2 linked regions of the Homo sapiens genome follow. The protein of the gene in region 2 interacts with the protein of the main gene of each other region in a biochemical or structural test. Each region holds a gene or a part of one and is shown on either strand. Other genes may lie near its edges.

Region 1 (10,967 bases), on a different chromosome or scaffold from region 2:
GTGATCTCCAGCAGCACCCCAGGAAACTAAAACAGTGACTAAGACCAGTTCCCTGCCCTCACAGGGCTTGCCCCAGCCAGGCACAGCGTGACAGTGTGCTAGGACAGTGTCCAGGGCTCTGTGGGACCAGGCAGGGGCACCTGATCGAGAGGCGTGTTGTTAGGGAGGGCTTCCTGCGAGCAGTGACCCACAGAGCAAGCCCAAGCTGGCCAGGCAGAGGGCAGCCTGTTGAAGGCTTTGGGCCACTGGGGCGCTGGGCTTGGAAGGGGGTGGGAGGCTGGCCAGAGAAGAGGGGGTGGGTGGAGGGCTGGCAGGGCCACATCACTGGGACCTCAGGAGCCCCTGGGTGCAGATGGCCACAGCAAGGGTGGGTGGAGGGGCTGTGCAGGGCTCATGCCCATGCCCAAGGGCACCACCAGGAGCATGGAGAGAGACCAGTGGGAGGAGTGCTGGGTGCCACAGCTTGGCGTCTGGCAGAGGGCCTTGCAGAGCTAGGGCTGTCTTCAAAGCTGGGTTTGATCTTTGGTTCCAAGTGCTTAGAAGTGTGCCTGGAATGGGGTAAGTGACCAGATAGTATAATGACCATTTTTCTTTGATCATGTTATCACATCTTGCCAGCTGGCTTTATGCCCTAGGAAGGCCGGGGCCTGTTCCCTGCGTGTTTCGTGGTGTGTGTTCTCGGTGCCCCTCCCTCCCTGATGCCCACGTTGACCTGCTGTTGAATTCTCCTGGAAGCTGGAAAACGTAAGGTCAGGAGGTGTTCAACCAGGAAATTGATGTGGCAGGCTGGAGAGAAGGGCCACGGGGACAGGGCCGGGTGGACCTGACGAGTCAAGAGCTTCCTTTGGCTGATATTCTGGCATAAATATTTAATGGGGGTGAGGACGGGACTTGTGGAACTGAAGTGGCCGATATTGATGTAAGAAGACTTTAACGTGCAGAGAAGGTCTGTCTGGGTCGTTGGCCTGCGGGGCTGCACGGGTGGGGAACGTGAAAAATAGGTGATGAAAATGTCACTGGGAGAGGCCCATTTCAGGGACGCTGCCCACAGTCTGATTTCTAAGGACAAAGACCCCCTCACTGCAGCTGTCCTGAGCTGCTGGGTGGATGGTCCTCACCAGGAGGAACAGGCAAGGCAGCCACACCCTGGTTCTATAACCCTTGGCACATTTTGGCCTTAGCCTCGTCTGCCATGAGGATGGTGGTACTTCCTACTCAGGTTGGTGGGAGAGTCCATGGGCTGAGAAGTTCTTTGTGTGTATTGAAAAGAGCTTGTTTTCCATCACCAAGCCAGACCACTTCCTTCCTTCAGTGCCTTTGCTCCAAAGCTCCCTCCTCCAGGAAGTCTTCCTTGATCAACACATCCCCTTCTGATTACTCAGTGTCTATGCAGCAACCAGCGTTTGTCGGTCCACTCAGGAAATATGAATTGAGCATGGCCACATGCTGGCTCTCCTGGTGCAGCAAAGAACAAGACAAAACAGCCTCTGTCCTTAAGGTGGAAAGAGGAGAGAGCATGTAAAAGAATTTGCAGGCTTTTTCTGGGCAGGTAGATAGCACATTGGAATCGCATGACAGGGCGAGGGACGGGAGTTAGTCCCACAGCTAGTGAAGGAGACTGTGCTGACTGAGCGGCATCTGAGCAGGCGCAGGGAGGAGTCAGGGAGTGAGGAGGCTCCAGGCAGGGACACCAGTGTCGGCAGCCTGGGGAAGGGCCGGTTGGGCTCAGAGGCTGGAGGGAGCTCAGGGGAGAGCCAGGTGGTGAGGGAGTGGAACATGGTGAAGGCCTTGCGTTGACTCTGTGGGAGGCAGAGCTGCCTGACGGCGGCAGTGGACAGTGGTGGAGTCTGACTTCCATGTTAAAGCCACAGTTTTGGCCGCTGGGTTGAAAACAGGTAGAATAGTGGTCCCCAACCTTTTTGGCACCAGGGAGTGGTTTTGCGGAAGACAGTTTTTCCATGGACCCAGGTGGTGGGTGATGGGGATGGTTTCAGGATGAAACTGCTCCACCTCAGATCATCGGGGTTTAGTTAGATTCTCATGAGGACCACATAGCCCAGATCCCTCGCAGGTGCAGTTCACAATAGAGTTTGTGCTCCTATGAGAATCTCGTGTTCCCGCTGATCTGACAGGAGGCAGAGCTCAGGCTGGAATGCTTTCCCGCCCAGTGCTCGCCTCCTCCTGTGCGTCTCGGTTCGGAACAGGCCACAGACCCGTGGCCTGGGGGTTGGGGACCCCTGGACTAGAAGGCAGAGTGAGCTGGGTGGCAGCAGAGAGCCAGGGAGGAGCCCTCGTAGGAAGCAGTTCAGGTGTGAGGACGCAGTGTCACAGGGGGAGGGTCAGCTCTGGACACACCCGACGGCAGGGTCGGCGGGGCTCACTGAGGCAAGGACAGAGGAGAGGAGCCGGGTGAGCCACAGTGAGGCCACCATCCGGCCTGAGCCTCTGTCAGCTGGAGGGGCTGCTTGCTGAGACGGGCTGCGGATGCTGCGGAGGAGACAGCCTTGGATGCTGCCCCCAGAGCTGGCTGGGTCCCACTGAGGCGCTGGGCAGCGGGTGAGGTACTGGAGTTGGTGGGCATGTGCCCCGGAGGCTGATGTGTGGAGGGGTGGACCTGGGTTTGGCCTGGGGGCAGGGGACCAGGGCTGCACTCCGGGCTGTCACCACGTTCAGGGCGGGGAGATGAGGAGCCAGTGGCAGAAACTGGAGCCGCCGATATGAAGGGACCACAGTGGGTTAAGCTGTGCCCGTTTCTTCTGGGAGGTCAGACAAGGTGATGACTGAGAATCACTGGGGACCTGGAGCTGTTTTTGGGCCTGGGAATAGAGGCTGGAGAAGGCGCAGAGGGCCGCCTTTCTCCCTGGGAGTTACCTTTGGTCCCGGCACACTTCTGGTTGGGTGTCCTGCCTGGCCCTAGGGTCCTCGAATGGGACTCTGCACTCAAGGCACCAGTGCATGTGGTCAGCCCCATGTGTGGTCCAGGCGGGGCCCCGCTTCCTCCTGCCTGCACCAGGTGTGGAGCCGGTCACAGTGCCTGCTCCCCTGGGCCGTAGCAGGGAGGAGAGGGCCTGTCCCGTGCATCCCAGGGTGTGCACTGCAGGTGATCCCGGCCATCAGAAAAGGCCGACTTGAAGGGGCAGGGGCTCTGAGACAGCTGTGCCTAGGCTGAGGCTGGGAGGAGCATACAGGCAGAGCGGAGAGTGCTGTGGTTGGCCCTGCCCAGGAGGGTGCAGCCTGGACCCCGCACCAGGTGTGCAGAGCTCAGAGGGCCTCAGTAAATGATTGAATGCCTGGGCCTGAGTGTGTGAACATTGGGAAGCTACGGAAGGGTTTTGGGCTGGAGGCCGTCGGACCTGAGTGCGAAATGTGCTGTTTGTCCTAGAGGGACGGTTCCCAGACCCAGGCAGGAGGCCTGGCTCAGCCGCGTGGCTGATTTGTGAGGAGGGAGAATTGGTCCATAGGTCTCTAGCCCTGTGGGCAGCTGTGGTCCTGTGAGTGAGTGCCAGGGTGTCCTCAGCACACACGAGCTCCCCCGCAGGCCTCTCCCTGCCTTTAATGGCACGGCACGCTGGGCTTGCCCAGGCTCTTCCCGTTGGCCACATCTCCCCACAGTCTTAGGAGAGGAGGTTATGCTGACCAGGCCACTGGCGGGCGGAGGTGATTTGTCTCTTTTTAATTGAATTATATCTTACATGTGCGTATCAGTTGGAGAAAAGCCCTCAAACCGCTTTTCCTCTGCTCTCACACAAGAGTCAACACAGAGGCCTCCTGTGGCGGACAGGCTGGGGATTTCTCCCCGCCAGCAAGCAGGCACTCAGTCCTGCAGCAGCACCAGCTGGATGTCCCCCAGTCCAGTTCAATTCCAGCACTGCCCACCTGGAGACAGCACGAGATCCCACGGGGCGAGGTCTCAGTCCCACAAGACTGCCCCCAGTTCTGATGCCAACCACAAGCCCCAGGTTGTTTTGCCTGTGTGTCTCACCCACTGGCTATAAATTGGGGTTCGCACACCCTCCCTGCCCACGTTTGACTAATTTGCCAGAGCGGCTCACAGAACTCAGGGCAACACTGACATTTCCTGGTTTATTATAAAGGATGTTACAAAGGCTTCTGATGAATACCAGAGGAAGAGACGTCTGTGGAGGATGGAGGAGGGTACGGAGCTTCCATGCCCTCTCTGGGCAAGCCACCCTCCAGGAACCCCCATGTGTTCAGCTCTTTGGAAGCTCCTCAAAGCCTGTCCTCTTGGGCCTTTTATGGAACCCTCATTGGCTAGGCATGGTGGAAGCATGTAGAAATGGGACTGGACAAAAGGGCTGTGAGCCCAACACTGTCAGTCGGAGTGGGGAGCCCAGGAAGGCCTGCCTGTGCGACATTCCTTCCTCCCCTTCTGAACTGGGGGTCTCATGACCCACACAGTCAGAAAAGGCAGGTCAGAGAATTTTTCTTTTTGTTTTTTGAGATAGATTCTCACTCTGTTGCCCAGGCTGGAGTGCAGTGGTGCAGTCACAGCTCACTGCAGCCTCTACCTCCTGGGTTCAAGCGATCCTCTCACCTAAGCCTCTTGAGTAGCTGGCACTACAGATGTATGCCACTATGCCCAGCTAATGTTTTTATTTTTTATTTTTTGTAGGGACAATGTCTTGCTATATTGCGCAGGCTGGTCTCGAACTTCTGGCCTCAAGCAGTCCTCCCGGTTTGGCCTCCCATAGTGCTGGGATTATAGGCATGAGTAACTGTGCCCAGCCCAGAGAGTTTCTTCATAGCCAGCTCCAAGACAGAAAGGCGGGGGAAGATTCAAGTATATTTTCAGTTTGTATGGCCTGCCTTGGGGAGAAAAAGGAACAGGTGAAAGGGGTGGGGGCAGGAGAAGGTCAGAGAGAGAGAGAGAGAGAGAGAGAGAGATGCTGTTTACTGAGACCTGCTTCTAAGGCCTGGAGTGGTCCAATATTATGACAAAAGACTGTAATAAGGGCTGGGGGGATAATGAGCCAGGAGCCATAGATGGAAACCAGCACATATCATAATGTAGCATGCTTCCATGTAATTCCCACCAGACCCAGTTAATAGCTCTAGACCCCGGAATCGCCTTTGTGTCTTCTCTGAATCAGTAACCAACCCAAAATATAAACACTGTTCTCACTTCTGTCACTATAGTTGAGTTTTGCCCATCCTTGAACCTCATGCCAATGGGACATACAGGATTGTACCCTGGAGCGCCTTGGGGTGGGAGGACTCCGTCACATCCTGTCTGTGGGGCTTGGCCATGCTGTGTCTGCAGTTCCGTCACATCCTATCTGTGGGGCTTGGCCGTGCTATGTCTGCAGTTCATTCTTTTTTGTTGCTGTGTAGTACACCATGGTGACTGTCACAACTTACTCATTCTATTGCTGATGGGTATTTGTGTTTCCAAGTGACTTTATGAATGATGTGGCCAAGACTGTTCTAGAACCTGCGTACTGGTGGACAAGCACTGGCTTCCCTTGGGTGTCTCCCCAGGATAGTTCCTGGATCATGGGCTATGTGTATATAGCTTCAGTAGATACTGGGCAGACGTCATTTCCTCATCTTGGCTAGCGGGTCATTCCCCCGACCCATCATTCCTGCGTAAACTGCCAAGTTCAGCCTCAGGTTGGGCCGAGTCACCCACCTGTTACAGCCCCTGAGCCACTTCCATAACAGGGGCTGGGTTCTGTTCTGTTCTGTTCTCCTAACAGCCCTGTGAAGCATCCTGGCCCCTCTGAGAATCAGAGCCGACTGGCCCATGACCCAGCACGGGGGATTCAGGCTGAGACCGTGCGGGGCGCGCTCCTCTTCCCAGACTCAGTCGCCCTGGGCCCCACCTGGGGCTCTTGAGCCCCTTCTTGGGCAGCAGGTGTTGACCCGAGCACAGGGCCGGGCGCGTGGGCCTCCTCTGAGCACCCCGCGCTGGGGCTTCTCCCCTCCAGGCACCAGCTTGCTGCAGGAGGTGGTCTACTTGGTGAGCCAGGGCGCTGACCCCGATGAGATCGGCTTGATGAACATCGACGAGCAGCTCCCGGTCCTGGAGTACCCACAGCCGGGCCTGGACATCATCAAGGTACCCAGGGCCAGCAGCACCTGTCCCAGCACCTCTTTAGGGTATTTCTACCGTTACACCCTGATGATTGACAGTTGCTCCTGGGGGCTCTGTGGATTAGGGGAGAGCAGATAGCCCCAGATAGCCAGGGGAGAAGCTGGCAGGCCTGAGCTGGCAGTGACCTGGAACCCGATGAGGGCGTGGGTGACACATCAGCGTCAGGGAGTCTGTGAAGTGGAAAGGAAGTCAATGCCTGGGGGGCACAGGGCTGAGGGGCCATTTGTGGGGAGCAGGCCCTGGGCCTCCCCCTCGCTTTCCCCTGGGGGCCCTCCTCTGAGGGAGCTGGGTAGGATGTGTTTGCATCAAATATTTGGTATCAAGAATGAATAAATGTTACCCCAGAGCCCTGCTCCCCGCACCCCTCAGACACACCCACAGGCACCCCCACCCCGTCCGCTGCACCTCTTTAGTTCCAGCCTCACACCTGAATGGGCCAGAACTGCAGCCTCCACCACACCTGTCCTCCTCCCTCTGGAGCAGCATTCCAAAACCCAGCTCTGAGAGTGCCATCCCACCCTGTGTCATGCTCTGAGAGTGCCATCCCTCCCCATGGCACAAGACCCCTGTGGCCCTCCAGGGCCCCTGTCTGCACCCCAGCCTCTCGGGCCTGAACGGCCATTTTGCTCTCCTTGTCCGTGCGGAACCATCTGGGAGTCGTTCCGTACTGCCGTGCCGAGGGCCACCGCGTTCAAGGCACTGCTCTTGGCATTGGGGGCAGCAGTGACTGACAGCATCAGGCCCGGCCTTTCAGCCCAGGAAGCCATAGTAGCTAGCCAGCGATCAGCGCTGGGAGGGGAGCAGATCAGGGGGGGACCAGCAGTCTCCTCTGGGGATGTCTGAGGCAGGTCCTGAAAGAGGAGAGGAGCAGAGGGACCCGTGAGCAAAGACCCCACGGCACGAGGGGCCTGGCCTTCCAGAGCAGTAGGCAAGCCTGGGGGTTGCAGGCAACGGTTCCGGGCTCTTTGGCTTCATGAGGGCTGGGCCCATTCCTAGGGCAGCTGGGAAGACGGGCTCTGAGCAGAGAGCACGGTGCTGGCTGCTTTACAGGACAACCCTGGCTGCTGATGGGAAGGCCCGAGGGGCAGGTGGAAGCAGTGAGCGCATCAGGCCAGGTTGCTGTGCGGTCCAGCGCCAGCCTGGCAGCACCCACTGGGGCTGGTGCCTCCTGCTGCCTCTGCTGCCCTCCGACGCCACTCCAAGCCGGGGCAGTAGCTCCCAGGCCCCCTGAGCAGATCCTGTGGCTGTGGCTATGATGGGTGGACTCCCCAGGCCAAAGTCAAGGACCCTTGTCTCTACCGCCAGGGTCCAGCCGGGGTGTGCTCATGTCTCCAATCTTTGTCTCAGGTGACAAGGGAGGCTGTCCTGGCTGGGTCCGAGACTCTCTCCAGGACAGGAGACCAGGGCATGACAGCCTTGCCTCCTCTTGCTCTGACCCCTCCCTACTCCTGGCCTCACCTTTCCCTCTGACCCCTACCGTTCTCCCCTGGCCCCCACCCCTTCCCTCGTCCTCTGGTCCCCCTGCTCCTGGCCTTACCCCTCCCTCTGGCCTCACCCCTCCCTCTTACCTGACGCTCTCCTGACCCCTCCGCTACCCTAGACCCGCCGTTCCCTCTGATAACTCCACTTCCCCTGAACCCCACCCCTTCCTTCCTCCTCTGGCCCCCTTCCCCTTGGCCCCACTCCTCCCCTTGGTCTCACCCTTTCCTCTGACCTGCCTCTCCCTCTGACTCCACGCAGGAACTGACCTCTCCCCGCCTCATCAAGAGCCACCTGCCCTACCGCTTTCTGCCCTCTGACCTCCACAATGGAGACTCCAAGGTAAGCTGGCACCTCCTCTGCCTCCCGAGATGAGTCCCCACCAAGAGGAGCCCAAGGTCCCTGTGCAATACACATGCAGGTCCCTGGCACTTACCTGGCCTTGGGGGCTGTCTTCCCAAGGAGCCCACACGTGAAGATCCCTTCTGAGGTGGTCTTGGGTCATGCGTCTCTAGCATTTTACCCAAGTTTTTAACGACGGGTTGGTTTTTACCTCACAGTCAAACATGGCTGTGGCCAGCCTAATCCAAAGCAGGCCAGCAGGCGTGTACCTGCTTTGGGCCGAATTCTCTTTGTTTTTCAATTGCATCAAATGCCAAGGCCTGTGGGGTTTTTTTGTTTGTTTGTTTTTTTGTTTTTGAGACGGAGTCTTAGTCTGTCGCCCAGGCTGGAGTGCAGTGGCATGGCTCACTGCAACCTCTGCCTCCCTGGTTCAAGCGATTCTCCTGCCTCAGCCTCCTGAGTAGCTGGGACTACAGGCATGTGCCACCACACCCGGCTAATTTTTCTATTTTTGGTAGAGACAGGGTTTCACCATGTTGGTCAGGCTGGTCTTGAACTACTGACCTCAGGTGATCTACCCACCTCGGCCTCCCAAAGTGCTGGGATTACAGATGCGAGCCACCGCACCCGGCCAGAGGCCTGTGTTCTTACCACCAGGATCAGGGTTGTAAGTTTTTTGTCTTCTGCAGATTTTAAAGTAGTTCTAGAGGACAGAAATAAAATGCTCAAGTAATTTTCCTGGCCAGCTCTACTGCATGGACAGGGCACCTTTCTGCTGAAACAGCGAAGCAGCAGCACCCAGCAGCCGTGCACATGGGCCCCAGCTGGACGCTGGAAGCAGGTGTTGGTTTGTGAGGTGCACCAGCAGGTTCAGGGAGGCTGGCCTGTGTCGGGGCAGCCCTGCCTGGGAGGGAAGGAGACACGGACTCATCCTGCTCCTGTCACCCACAGGTCATCTATATGGCTCGCAACCCCAAGGATCTGGTGGTGTCTTATTATCAGTTCCACCGCTCTCTGCGGACCATGAGCTACCGAGGCACCTTTCAAGAATTCTGCCGGAGGTTTATGAATGATAAGCGTGAGTGTTGCAGCCTGGCGGCATGTTAGAACCGGAGCCGTCTGTTGTCGTGGACGGCCTGGCAGGTGCTGGGTGCTTCCCCGACACGGTCTCCAGTTCTGACAGTGACCATGTAGGTCAGGCCCGCGGTCACTTTACAGATGAAGACACTGAGGCCGAGGGTCGTGAACGTGGCCGAGATCCTAGAGCTGGTGTGTGTCAGAGCAGGTCCATCTGAACCCAGAGCCCTTCTCTTCTACCACACTGTCGGGGTGTCTGAGAAGTTCCCCAGTTAAAACATCCATCCTTCCTACCTGGGTTTCAAACAGGGAGAGAATGAAAACAGTAAAAATGGAGGCCCAGGTATCACTACTGTTAGTGATAGGGCCTGGAGTGGAGACTGGAGCTAAGTGTGACAGGCATGGGCCTTTGGCTGAACCTCAGGCACAGGCAAGCTACTGGGGCAGGGCACACTTGTGCCCGCTGGGAGGAGGACAGCCGGGCTGAACCTCAGGCACAGGCAAGCCTCCGGGGCAGGGCACACTTGTGCCCGCAGGGAGGAGGACAGCCGGGCCGAGAGTGCCATGTGCTGTTCTCTGGCTTCCATTCCAGCCCCTGAGGAGGAGCGAGGCTGGGTTCCACCCTGCCCTGCTCTCAAGGAAGGCGGGACCAGGCCTCTTGTCTTGGTCCCACTCGCTCCCAGTCCTTACTCTCTTGCCCCGCTGGGCCACCTTTCCCTTGGGAGTGGTGGCAGAGCTCCTCAGTGCAGTTCTGTTCCTGCCTTCCTGAGGGGGCTCCCCATGGCCAGCCATGGCTTTGGGAGGTCCTGGGACAGAAAGTGGGCAGTGTAGGGTGTGCAGGCAGAGGAGCTTTGAAATGTGTCATAATAGCTGCACTTTAATTAAATCTACACTGAGACTCTTCCCTACCCAAGGCTGAAAATACACTTTCTGTTTTATTTCCCAACGGAAGTGATGCTGAGCCGCATTGTTCAGTGTGGCTTATCGGGGGCTCTGCAGGGGGCTTATGTGACAGGATGAGGATGAATCATGTAGCAGAGATCCTGGAACGTAATGCCCTCGAGTTTAAGTGGAACTTAGGGCAGTGGACCTAGAGCTGCTGCCAGGCCTGGTTGAAGGGGACCTCTTGGCGGGGCGGTGCAGGGCGCCACAGGCTGACTCTGTTGCTTGCAGTTTGAAAACCCACGAGGGCCTCAAAGCCCTGGGATGATTCTGTTTCCTGCCCTTGAGCCTCTGCTTCCACTGTGCCTGCTGAGAAGTGGCCCTGCCTGCAAGGGGTAGGAGGCCCCAGACCGCACCCTGAAGCCCCCTGAGCCTGCTCTGGGCCTTCTGTCCAGCCCCTCTTCCCATGGCCTCTTGGCCCTGGCACCTGCTCTTGTGGTCCACCAGGCATTTGGAGCAACCCACTCATGGACTTCTGAAGCTGTTTCCTAGGGTCCAGCATGGACTCTGCTCTCTGCAGAGCATGGGGACAACACCCACATTCAGACCAGCACGTGGAAGAGGCTACAAACATCTTGCTCAGGCCAGAGCAGTTAACAGTTCTCTTAATATAGGCCTCTCCATGTCACCACAGTCACAGACCCATCCTCCACTGAGTGCAAGGTCCCACACACGTGCCTTGGTCCCAGCAAACCCTGTAGACAGGCCCACTCAGCACCCCTGTGCTCCGTCCTTCATTGTCACTCAGTGAGCACGCACATACTGAGGACCGCTGGACCCCCTCCCTGATGTCCTGAAGACGGTGGAAACTAATATGCACGGGAACCCTGAAAGCACACCATGTCCAGACAGGCCAGGATCAGAGGCCACAGCACAGGGCAACAGCAGGAGGGTCCTGCATAAACAACCACGCGTGAGCCTGGTGACCAGCTCTGCGAGGCTGGAGGGCAAAGGGCCCTGGAGGCAGGTGACACCTGCAGTGTGAGGATGCCCCGTGACAGGCTTCCTGTGA
Region 2 (10,967 bases):
GGACAGTTCATGCAAGAAAAATATTACAACCCCTAATCAGCAGATCCATACTCAAAGGTAAGGTCTTGATTCTTCATCGGGCCTTTCATTGAAATTAGTAAATTTAAATGGTATGTTATTTTTTATGACTCCTTGCCTTAACTTTTCAAGTTTACTGTCAACTATTGGTCCCAAATGCATGGAGTAGAGAGGGAATCTTTTGTATTTATTTATTTATCACATATAAATAGTAACATGTTGCCTCATCCCCTGCCATATTTTTGTTGGCAAGAAAACACTCAGCAAGATGAAGTGACCTGCCCAAGGCCACAGAACTAGCATAGCCAGAGGTGTGTCTAGAGCCAGGTGGGCTCTGATTCCACCACTTCGGCCACCTCATGATAACAGAGAGATAAACAGGACACAGTTTCACGCACCCTGGCTTCTGTGGTTAATTATATTTTGAGAAGGACGGAGTGTCACCTGCCCAAATAGATGGAAAGACATTTGAGAACAAGACTATAGGCTTATACTTCACCATATGCCCCAGAACTTCCTACATAGCACTTGGCAATAAATAATTTTTGTTTGAATTGTTAAATTTTCTTTCCTACTTTATAATAGTGGAAGAAATTGGGGCCTTCCTGGTTTCTGAAAAAATTATGCTCCCTTGGAGTTTATAACCCCCACCATGGAGTATAAAATAACAGGAGAGAAATTCTATTGTGCCTGTCAGATCATGTCATTGAGAGCTTAACCTCATTGATTGGCACTTGCTCTTCCCCATCAGTGTGGCAAGATGAGCAGCACCCTGCTCACCAGATGGTTATTTGTTCCACCAGCCACCTTTGCTGAGTCCCTGATTCACTCCAGCCCAGGACTGTCTCCAGCATTCATGCTGCAAGGCAGCTCCTGCCAACAACTTTGCCAAATGGCTCCTCTCAAAGTCATGGCTGCCCAGACAGACTGGCTCCTCCATCTGCAGCAGCTTTTGGCAAAGAGAAGTTTCCCTTTCTGGCTCTGCCTCTTGGCTGCACCAGAACCTTCTTGCCAGAAGGATGATTTGACCCAGGAAGTACAGCCAGACCTGGAATTTCTGGGGTCATTTAAAGCCTATGGCCATGTTTTCCCAGTCTCACCCCTGAGGTGAACATCAGAACATATCAAAGAGACCTAGATGATCACAAATACAGAAATAATGCCTCATAGAAACTGAGAGTCAGAAAAGTCTGTAGAGAGCATGCCTTCCCTCCCCCATCTTCAACCTCATTATAGTAGCTTAGGAAACTGAAGCCCAGAGAATAAAAGTGACAAATTATGGTAGCAGGACTGGAATCCTACCCAGGTCTTCTGATGTGCATTCCACATAACTGCTTACGATACTGCATTGCCTTTCCATTTCCCCCCAGTTCATTTTCAAATCCTTGGTAGAAATTGGACCCTTGTATTGATTGATTCAGAAGAATATTTTTTAGAAAAATGAATCATCTTTTCCCTATCAACATCATAACTGTTCTTTTAAACAGGTGTTCATATACTACATTGTGATGAATTTTTGCCAAGTTTAAGAATACAGGGTTTGGAATCAGATAGACCTGGATGTGACTTCTGTTCTACTCACTGTTGTGTAACTATGGACTAGTAATCATATTATTCTGCTTTAACTTTTCATTTAAAGGGGGATAAGAACAGTATCAGCCTATACAAGTAAACTGGATTACATGAGAAAAATACTTTAAGGCTCTAAGCCTGTACTGGTGCACAGAAAGCCCTCCATAACTACCAGCAATCATTATTAATTATTAACATTCAAATCCACAATGGTTTTGGAAGACACAGTACTGGGCACATATGAATAGGTAGATCAGGTATTCTCATTCTCTACATTAGGAAATTCAGGTTCTTGGTTTAAATGACTGATCCAAGGTTACACAGAAAACAAATAGAAGACCACAGATTTCTGATTTTTTCTTGCCATTTTGCTAAGAAATGGGAACTGTCATCTCAGCTTTAAAGATAATAAAATCAGGAAGGAGGACATTTAAACAAAAACACATATACACAGATAATCACTGCAGCATCTTATGTAATATAAAAGCTGGAAACGATTTTCTATCCACAGGGAACTACTAAATAAACTGTGGTACTGTCATACTATGGAGCACCGTGCAGCCATTAAAAGGCATGAGACAGATGTAGGTGTTCTGATATGGAAAAATCTTGAAGACGTATCACTAGTAGAAAAACAAAGTGCAAATAAAACGGGCAGTGTGTACTCATTTATGCAAACATCCTCCCCAACTATATATCTGTACATGTATATTTAAATGTATGAATAGAAAGATGGCTCTGAGGAAGTCTACCAACTACTGATAATGGTAACCTTTGGGTAGGAAAGTGGGATGGGCATGGGATGGAGGGTGATTCATGCTTTATTTACTTATCATGCTTGAATCCTTTTAAGTAAGAAAGAATATAGTATTATTTGACTTATAAATAAAAACATAAAGGCAGAGGGAAATGTGAATTATAATAATGCAGTTGGCATGAACCAACAGACCTCCCAACTTGAGTGTCTCTAGCCCTAACCTGACTTCTACAAAGCTACATAAGCAATGTTAGTTTCACTGAGTTTCCTGTGTGGCTCTCCCACTGTGGTAGGGTCCTTCCTGGTGGTATTTTGTACTTAGGGACCCAAGTTCTATCTTTCAGACCACCTGGGAACTCTCAGCAGCATCTTGCTACAATATTCCCTATTAGAGACATTTACAGCTTTGCCACCCTCTACACCCTTGTGTGTCTGTAGAGGGACATCAAGCTGATCCTTCTACGTCAAGTGGAGGAGGCGGCCTGCCATTCTTTGACCACTTCAGGTTCATTGCTTAGCAAGGATTCATACCAGTGTGATAAGCAATGCTTGATGGAGGAGGTTTTCAGTTCCCCAGTGTTATGGACCAAATTGTGCCCCCCTCCACCCCAATCTATATGTTGAAGCCCTAACTCCTATGTGACTGTATTTGGAGATAGGTCCTTTAAGGAGATAATTAAGATTAAATGAGGTCATAAGGATAAGGTCTTATGGGGCTGGTGCCCTTGCAAGAAGAAAAAAAAATGCCAGAGATTGCGCTCTCTCTTTTCACACTTGCACACAGGAGAAAGGCCATATGAGGACCCAGCAAGAAGTTGGCTATACATGGGAAGAGAGAACTCACCAGAAACCAACCATGCTGGCACCTTGATCGTGGACTTCCAGACTCCAGAAATGTGAGAAAACAAAATTTCTGTTATTTAGGCAACCCAGTATGTGGCGTTTTTAAAAATGCAGTCTGAGCTGACTAATACACCAAGCACAAAGGCCAGTACACCTGAAACACATCCTCCCACAGGTAAGGTACTCTTCGCCACGCTCCGTCCAACAGACCCCATCCTTCTCAGGTTAAAACCTGTTCATAAGGGCCCCTCTAGATTCCTAAACTCCATACATCTTTTTTCCCCTTACACACAGACCCCCACCCCACTTCATTTAACATTTGTTGTAAGCGATCAAGTCATTTACCTCTAAAGCACAGAAGTGAAAGTCTGACTACCCCCATACAAGCACACACCCTTTCTCATTACCCAGGATGACCCTTTCTCCAAAGAAAGCTATGAACATTAACAATTAATATTTCCCACTATTAACTCTTTCCACAGTGAACTTGGAGCAGGAGAACTCAAAGGTTCCTGGGTTATTTCTGACAAAGTTCCTAGTGGACTTATAAAAATAATCTGTGCTTTCTGCGAGATAGTTATGTTGGGGCTGACTTTCAGCCTGATTCTAGAGTTCTATTGGAGTCAAAAGAAGGAAATTTGGTGGTAAAGATGACAAGTTGGGTGAAAGCAAAATCGTCTTCTTATTAATGGAAGATGAGGGGAACCAGCTGGAGAGCCACTCTGGCCAAAGTGAAGCCTCAGACATCTACATATTTATGTGCAAAAGAACATCTGCCATCCCACAGCTGCCTCCGTCATATTTCTCTTGCTGTGGCCCAGGCAACTATATGAGTTGTCATGAGCTGGGAAGAGTGGGTGCCTAGATGGCCCAGCGGGACCATCTCAGCTCAGCTCAGTCTGGGAGCTGCATGCTTACTGTCCTACACTGGGGATGAGTGACATGGAGAAAGCTATTCAAAAAACTCCAGCTAGTTCTCACATCTTGATTGCTCAATTCCATAAACATTTTTTTCTGTTCTTATTATATAACAGAAGAAATCTACAGGAGTAAGTCAGCTAAGAATTCTGTTACTGGGTCGTAGAATTCAGCTTCCTCCCTGTGGGATAATGGAAAAGGCCCAGAGACGTGCACTGCTGTGCTAGGAGAAGATAGATCAAGTAAATCCAGCAGCACCGACCAGGCGCCAATGGGATATATGTGGAGGGTGGAGCACAACTTGCATTTCTCCAAAAGATCCTGAGCAGCATGGGTGAGCAAAGAACATGTGCCAAGAATCCACACAGTCATGAGCTCTAATCTGGTTATGCCACTTACAAGTGAGTATGTTTGTAATACATGTGTATTTGTTATGCAAGTTCCTTTGGTTCTCTGTACCTTGAAATTTCTTATTTTAAAAATGAGGTTAATGCAACCATTCTCTCTGGGTTGTTGATGGAGATTAAATGAGTAAACATAAGAAATACCTAGGAAAATGCCTGGAATAGACAGTACTCGCGATACCTTAGTTTCTTTCCCTCAGCTAAGTGTCGAAATTGGACCCCTATTTCTTCTTAAATGCAAACGCCAAAGTCTAGGAATGTCAGTCTACAGCTGTGCTCTTTTCATTGGGCATTACCAATATTTTGACAGGACTGGCCTAATATTATTCACCCCAGGATCATTGGTACATTTCTGACCAGCACTCATAAAGGGCTTGGGATTGCCCCTGGGGACCTGGATGCTAATAATGAATACTTGCTAGTGATTTTCAATGCATTCTGGTTATTATGTTTAGTAGCAGAACATTTCCCATCCCCAGAAAGGTCATTTACAATAGTGTAAGGCAGCTACTTCTCACCTCGCATTTCAGGTTTCTCTGAGAACAGCAGAGAGCTCAAACATTCATCCATATGCATTGGAAACAGCATTCTGATCTGGCATTTGCATACAAATACCAAAGCAACTTAAGGAACTATGAGGCAGCTCTCCATCATATGACACTACCCCCTTTTATTTTTTCAATGCCTTCCCAGCATCTTCATATCAAAAGCCATTTTCATGTACCTTCCCAGCTTTATTCATTATAAGTTTCCCCTTTCTTGAGCTTATTTGGAATGGGGGATGGAGGAGGAATCTTTACTTCCTCACTTTTACTCTCTGTGGCCCTAAAAAGCTAATGTATTTCACAAATCACTCAGATCTCAAACCTGGAGACGTTCTAAACTCAACTCATCCAAGACTGGACTCTTCTTATCCTACCACATTGCTGAGAAATGGCCATATATTATAGTATTACTTGAATAATATCAGTGTGTGGTTATTTATGCTTACCAAGGCCCTATTCTATTGTGAGGTACTTTTTTGCTACAATTTCTTCATACCAAGCCAAGATCCACTTCCTTGTACTTTCTCACTCATTGGTTCAAATTTTGCCCTGAAATGTTCTTATCTGAGGCATCTCATCTATTCATACAGTTTTAAGTACCTTTAATATGCTGGTGATGTTTAATCTCAAATTTATTATCTAGTCCAGGTCTTTCTCTTGAGCTTCAGACCCAGAAATCCAATTGTCTACTTGCAAGTCTCACTGTGAAACTAGATGTCTCACTGTCTTCTCAAACTAATCAGTTTTCAGTCTGTTTCCGCTTTTAGTGATGCGCCCCATTATGCATCCATTTTCATGGCAAAATTCTGGGAGTTGTCCTTGACATCACCTTCTCCATCTGCACCCAATCATAGTAAGTAAGTGCAATGCAATCTTTCTCTATTACGTATCTTAAATCCATCTAATTCTCTCCATCTCTACTGATGCCACCATCCTGGAGCACACCATGACCTCCTAATTATCTCCCAACTTTCATTCTTTTTCATTACATGCCTGGCTCTCTAACCCCATCCTACACAGCAGCCAGATTAAACTTCTAGAAAAACAAATCTGATCATGTTTCCCTTTTCCTTAATGGCTTTCCATTCATCTTTGGATAGAGTCCAAACTCCTTGTGGTCAACAAGGCTTGATATGATCTGGTCCCTGAATACTTCTCCAGTCTTTTTTTCCCCCAACATTTTATTATGAAAATTCAAACAGACTGCAAAGTGGAAAAAAAATTACAGTGATTATCCATAGACCCACCACCTCAATTTAGTTATTAACTTTTTTTTTGAGATGGAGTCTCGCTCTGTCACCAGACTGGAGTGCGGTGTCGCGACCTCGGCTCACTGCAACCTCTGCCTCCTGGGTTCATGCGATTTCCTGCCTCAGCCTCCTGAGTAGCTGGGATTACAGGCATACACCACCATGGCTGGCCAGTGACTAACATTTTATACTTGCTTTATCATATGTCTATCCATTTACCCATCCCTCTCTCTTAGCATTAATCTTTCTTGCTTCTGGTACATTTCAAAATGAACTGCAGACTCCATTCTCATTTTTATCACTCTTCTCCCTGTTCCTAGCCATAGTCATCTTTCCATTCCTTGAATCAGTTAGGCTATTTTATCTCTCTGGGCTTTTGTACCTATTGTCCCTTCTACCTAAAATGCTTTCAGGTCTTGTTAATTGCAAATTCATCCTTTAGTTCTCAGTTTCAGCTGTCTGAGAGGCTGTCCTTGAACTCCCGATCTAAATTAGATCCACCTTTCCACCTTATGACCCCAAGGCATCTTGTGCCTTTCCTAAATATCACTTATCACAATTGGTAACTATATATTTATTTGCAAAATTATTTGTCTCATACTATCTCCTTTGCTAGATTGAAAGATCCCTGAGGACAGAGACCACGTCTGTATTGGAACATCCCGTATCACCTCTGCAAAACGTCAGTATTTGTTGAAGGAATTAAAGGCAGAATGAATCAATAATTGAAAGGAGCTACTTGGAATAGTAAACTTGTTCTTCCTTTAATATGTATAAACAAGACAGTTTTTTAAAAAGGCTTCTGAGGGAAGGTGGAACCCACTTGTTGCCAGAATATAACCAGGAAGTACATTAAGTAACAATAACAGCTATAATGAATTAAGGGTGGGCTTTGTATTAGGCATATCCCGAGTGCTTGAGTGCTTTCTCTGCATCAAATAATTTTTCTTTGGCATAGGTTCTATTGTTATTCCCACTTTCCAGCTAAGGAAACTGAGAACAGAGCAGTTATTTTAAAACACCCCATCTATGTAGAATATTTGGTCTATCTGTGGCCCCATTTGAAAGTAGGAAGATTAATCTAGAAAACTCACAGACTGCTATAATGGAGATAGGGTTTTACTTGGCTGTAACAGAAGCCTAAAAATATAGCAGGAAACCCACATATAGAGAGATTTGAGAGATGAATCCCTGGTTAGGAAACCTGGGGTTCCATATCTGAAAAAAAAAATCAAACCATTGTGTTGACTTTATTTTTGTGGGAAATTTCAACCCTACCCAAGGCCCTTCCTCTATATAACCCCATACACACACTTCAAATTTTCCCTGCAAAGGATTTTATGCCTGATGGAAATATAGCTTATACACTGAGATAAAACCATTGCAATCTTTCCCAGAATAAGAGCTGATGGTTAAAGGAAAATGAAGTAGTGCAGAATTTCCTAGTGGGAGAACCTGGCCTTCAGACACTGGCTTGAGTTTGAAGACAAGGTTTTCCATTGAATGTGTGACTTTTGGCAAATTAGTAACATCTTCAGACCTCAGTTGCATCAGTTTCCTTCTTTGAAAATGGAAATGACAACATCCATTTAACAGGGTTTAGATATATTGAAATGCTATACATAAAGAGCTCAGCACAGTGCTTGGAACATAGAAGATGCTCAAAGATGTTAACTTTAAAAGAGGAGGAAAGGTAGGGGAGGGTGGTAATTTTCATGCTCAGAATTAAAAAAAAGTCCTAGGAAATTTATTTATTAAATGCACACCATGCATTCTTTTGAGAAAGACAGAGAGAGAGAAAGAGACTGAGAGAGGGGAGCTTGGGTGAAAGTGTCCTTTAGCATTTGCATTGCTCTTAGCTGGATGAACTTGCCTGCAGTCACCACTTACAATGCAAATTGAGTTTAGAGTCCTTCACACTAACTACACAGCAAAAACCTTTCAGCTTTAAATAGAACACTGCAATGTGGAATGATCTGAGCAAACAGAAGAAAAATTCAGAAATACATGTGAAGGAGATATTTTGGAGGAAAAAAAAGAACAATCTGACATAACTGAGCAGGTAGGAGGAAAATGTAGAAATAGTAAAGGAAACAGAAAAGCAAGATCTATGGAAGGACTAGAAGCTAATTCCCCACCCAGTAAGAGGGTATAAGTTAATAAGGGGGAAGAAAACTTGTGGGGCAAGTCCCCAGTGAGGAGAATTTTTAAAAAGTCTTTTGATCTGGTGCTTTTTCAAGGTATACTAACACTTCTTAAGGAATTCATTGGAAGAACAGGGACTCTTCCCCCTCTGGCAACAAAATTGCATGAATCTTCCCTGAAACGAATAGGTCAAAACTGTAGGGAACTTCTTGTTCTATCCAACTTCTGGTATTTACATCGTTTAAGTTCTATTTTCCTTTTCTTTTCATACCTTCTCTAAGATCAGATTTTAAAACCTAGAAGCTTCTGTGAAATAAAGGTTTGTTAGTTTTGAGTGTGATTAGTATGTGTGTGTGTTTGAGAAAGAGAAAGAAATCTGAGAGGTTGATTCTCACATGCCAGAAATCTCATTGCTATAAACTCATATCTATTTTTGACTATGTGAACCTAGATATTCTATCCAGAATCAGAGTTTTCAAAAATGGAATAAAAATAAGAACAACGGTAATATCCAGGGCCCTGAAAACAATAAAGAATGCCATTTTTAACTGATTTCTTCACTTCACAATTGACACTCCTGTACACATAGCTCCACTCTGGGCATTTTCTCAGCTTGCTAAGTTTCTCTTGCCTGCATAATGTAATATACAAGAAAACATGAAGGCAGCTCTCTTTCTTTGTGGTTACAAACAGAAATAAATGTTCCCCCAAAAGCCAACAGACCCAAGGCCAACTTCTCTCTTGGATGACATGCTTAGATACAGAGTTAGTCATGTGCTATCAGGTCACTGAGTCAGTGACAAAGCACTAAGATTGAGGGAGAACATCTTACAATCAGGTTGCCATCATGCACAGAAAAAGAATCGGTAAGTATGGTGCTCTGTATAGGGGAGGGATGGGCTGCACATCTTAAAAGCCATCTCTAAGCTCCTGGAAGCCAGAGCTTACAACTCTGCTTTATCTGTCTAGCACCATGGGCATACTGGGCTTGATGCTCTCCAAAAATGATGACAAATGGAGAATATACTTTCAATAGCACTGGACATTCTTTCTGTCTAGAACTTCCAGGGATGTTTATAGAAGATGCCACCTTTACCCCCAGATGTGTGTGTGTCTTTTTATTTCTTTCAGAGCTTGAACTCTTTTACTCCCCCCATCACATTTCTCTAGCAGTCTTTTGATTTGATTAAATATTACAGAAATGTTAGCATCCAAGAATAATAATTTTAAATTAATACACCTTGCAACATTGTCCTAAAGCATTTCCACATACATTTTCTCGCATGGATATTACAATGTGATAATGCAACACTTTGTATGAGTGGCTAAGGATAAAAGGCCTACAGGTAGAAAATGAAAGCAAAAATGCAAAAGTTTTGGCACTGGGGGAAAAAAATGCCTCTACTCTCTATTCACACACAAAAGGCAGAATGAGATTCCACCTGCTGACTTTCCCTTCCTGCCCGCACAGCACTAGTGCTTATGTCAGAACAAGCTGGGAGAGAGGGAGAGACGACAATTTCACCTCTTGGCAAAGCTCAGCTTGCTGAACCCTTTTGCTTTCTGCTGGCTGTTGATTCAGCAGAAACTACTGCTGCAGAATTCATAATGGTGATTTTTAAAGGCCCCACCGATCGCGTTGCTCACCCCACGTGTCAGCCTCATTCGCTGCCCGCCAGAGCACTATTTCCCCAGCCACCTTTTTATTTTTGCTAATGCACTTCCAAAAGGAAAGAGGTTCGCCCGTCTGCAAAGGGCTTTTTGGGGTTTTGATTGTCTAAGCAGGTAACCTGGCCGGCCGGGGAGATGAATGGGCAGGAAATGAAACCTTGCCCTCCCTGCAGCCACTGAGAGACATAACATCGTTTCGCTCAGGGAGGGGGGACCAAGGTCCTACTGGGCCCCTCCCTTCTTATCTCCCCCCAAGACCCCTGCGAACATCTCGGGGAAGGGGTCATCTGCCTTCCTGGGGTCATCTTTCTGGGCGAGAGCCCCACCCTGAAAAAGCCTAATCCCTGAGGGCCATTTTAACTCCCGTGGGCGCCGGGTCCACCTGCTGCTGAACGCCGAGCTCGCCTCGCGGAGCCCGGATGGATGCGAGGTGCACTGGGGCTGCCGGGGCCAGCCGAGCCCCCGCCCCAGCCCTAGGGCCCGGAGGAGTCTCCGCCACTACGCGCCCAGCTGCCCAGGAAGCACAGTGATCCGCAACTTGCGCCCGGCCCCAACGGCGGAATGCGGCGGGGCTGGCGTTACCTTCGGTCGCATAGCTGTGGTCGCGCAGGAAACTGTTGTTGATTTTGCGGGTATCAATGTCCTCCTCCATTGACAGCAGGCTTACTTGCGTGGGAACCAGAAGCCGGCAGACAAGTATCCATGATCCCTCCCCGCAGCCAGTCTCACAGGAGAGGGGGGCAGGGGAGCCAGTGGGACTGCACCATGGTCCGAGCCTGAGGAGGAGACGGGGAGGCGGAGAGAAAAAAAATAAAAACCCGGCAATGGAGCTGTCACCTCCTCC

What was found.
Region 1: the proteins of PPP2R2B (region 2) and SULT4A1 form a complex in vitro, tested with the Homo sapiens proteins (one study listed by BioGRID).

What each region holds. Positions count from the first base shown.
Region 1 is NC_000022.11:43,836,914-43,847,880, reverse strand, and holds part of SULT4A1 (sulfotransferase 4A1), read left to right. Parts: intron 1-5,948; coding exon 5,949-6,079; intron 6,080-7,855; coding exon 7,856-7,936; intron 7,937-8,887; coding exon 8,888-9,014; intron 9,015-10,967. UniProt on the Homo sapiens protein: Atypical sulfotransferase family member with very low affinity for 3'-phospho-5'-adenylyl sulfate (PAPS) and very low catalytic activity towards L-triiodothyronine, thyroxine, estrone, p-nitrophenol, 2-naphthylamine, and 2-beta-naphthol.
Region 2 is NC_000005.10:146,867,297-146,878,263, forward strand, and holds part of PPP2R2B (serine/threonine-protein phosphatase 2A 55 kDa regulatory subunit B beta isoform), read right to left. Parts: exon of another isoform or gene 10,900-10,967; coding exon of another isoform or gene 10,776-10,899; coding exon 10,706-10,775; intron 1-10,705. UniProt on the Homo sapiens protein: The B regulatory subunit might modulate substrate selectivity and catalytic activity, and might also direct the localization of the catalytic enzyme to a particular subcellular compartment.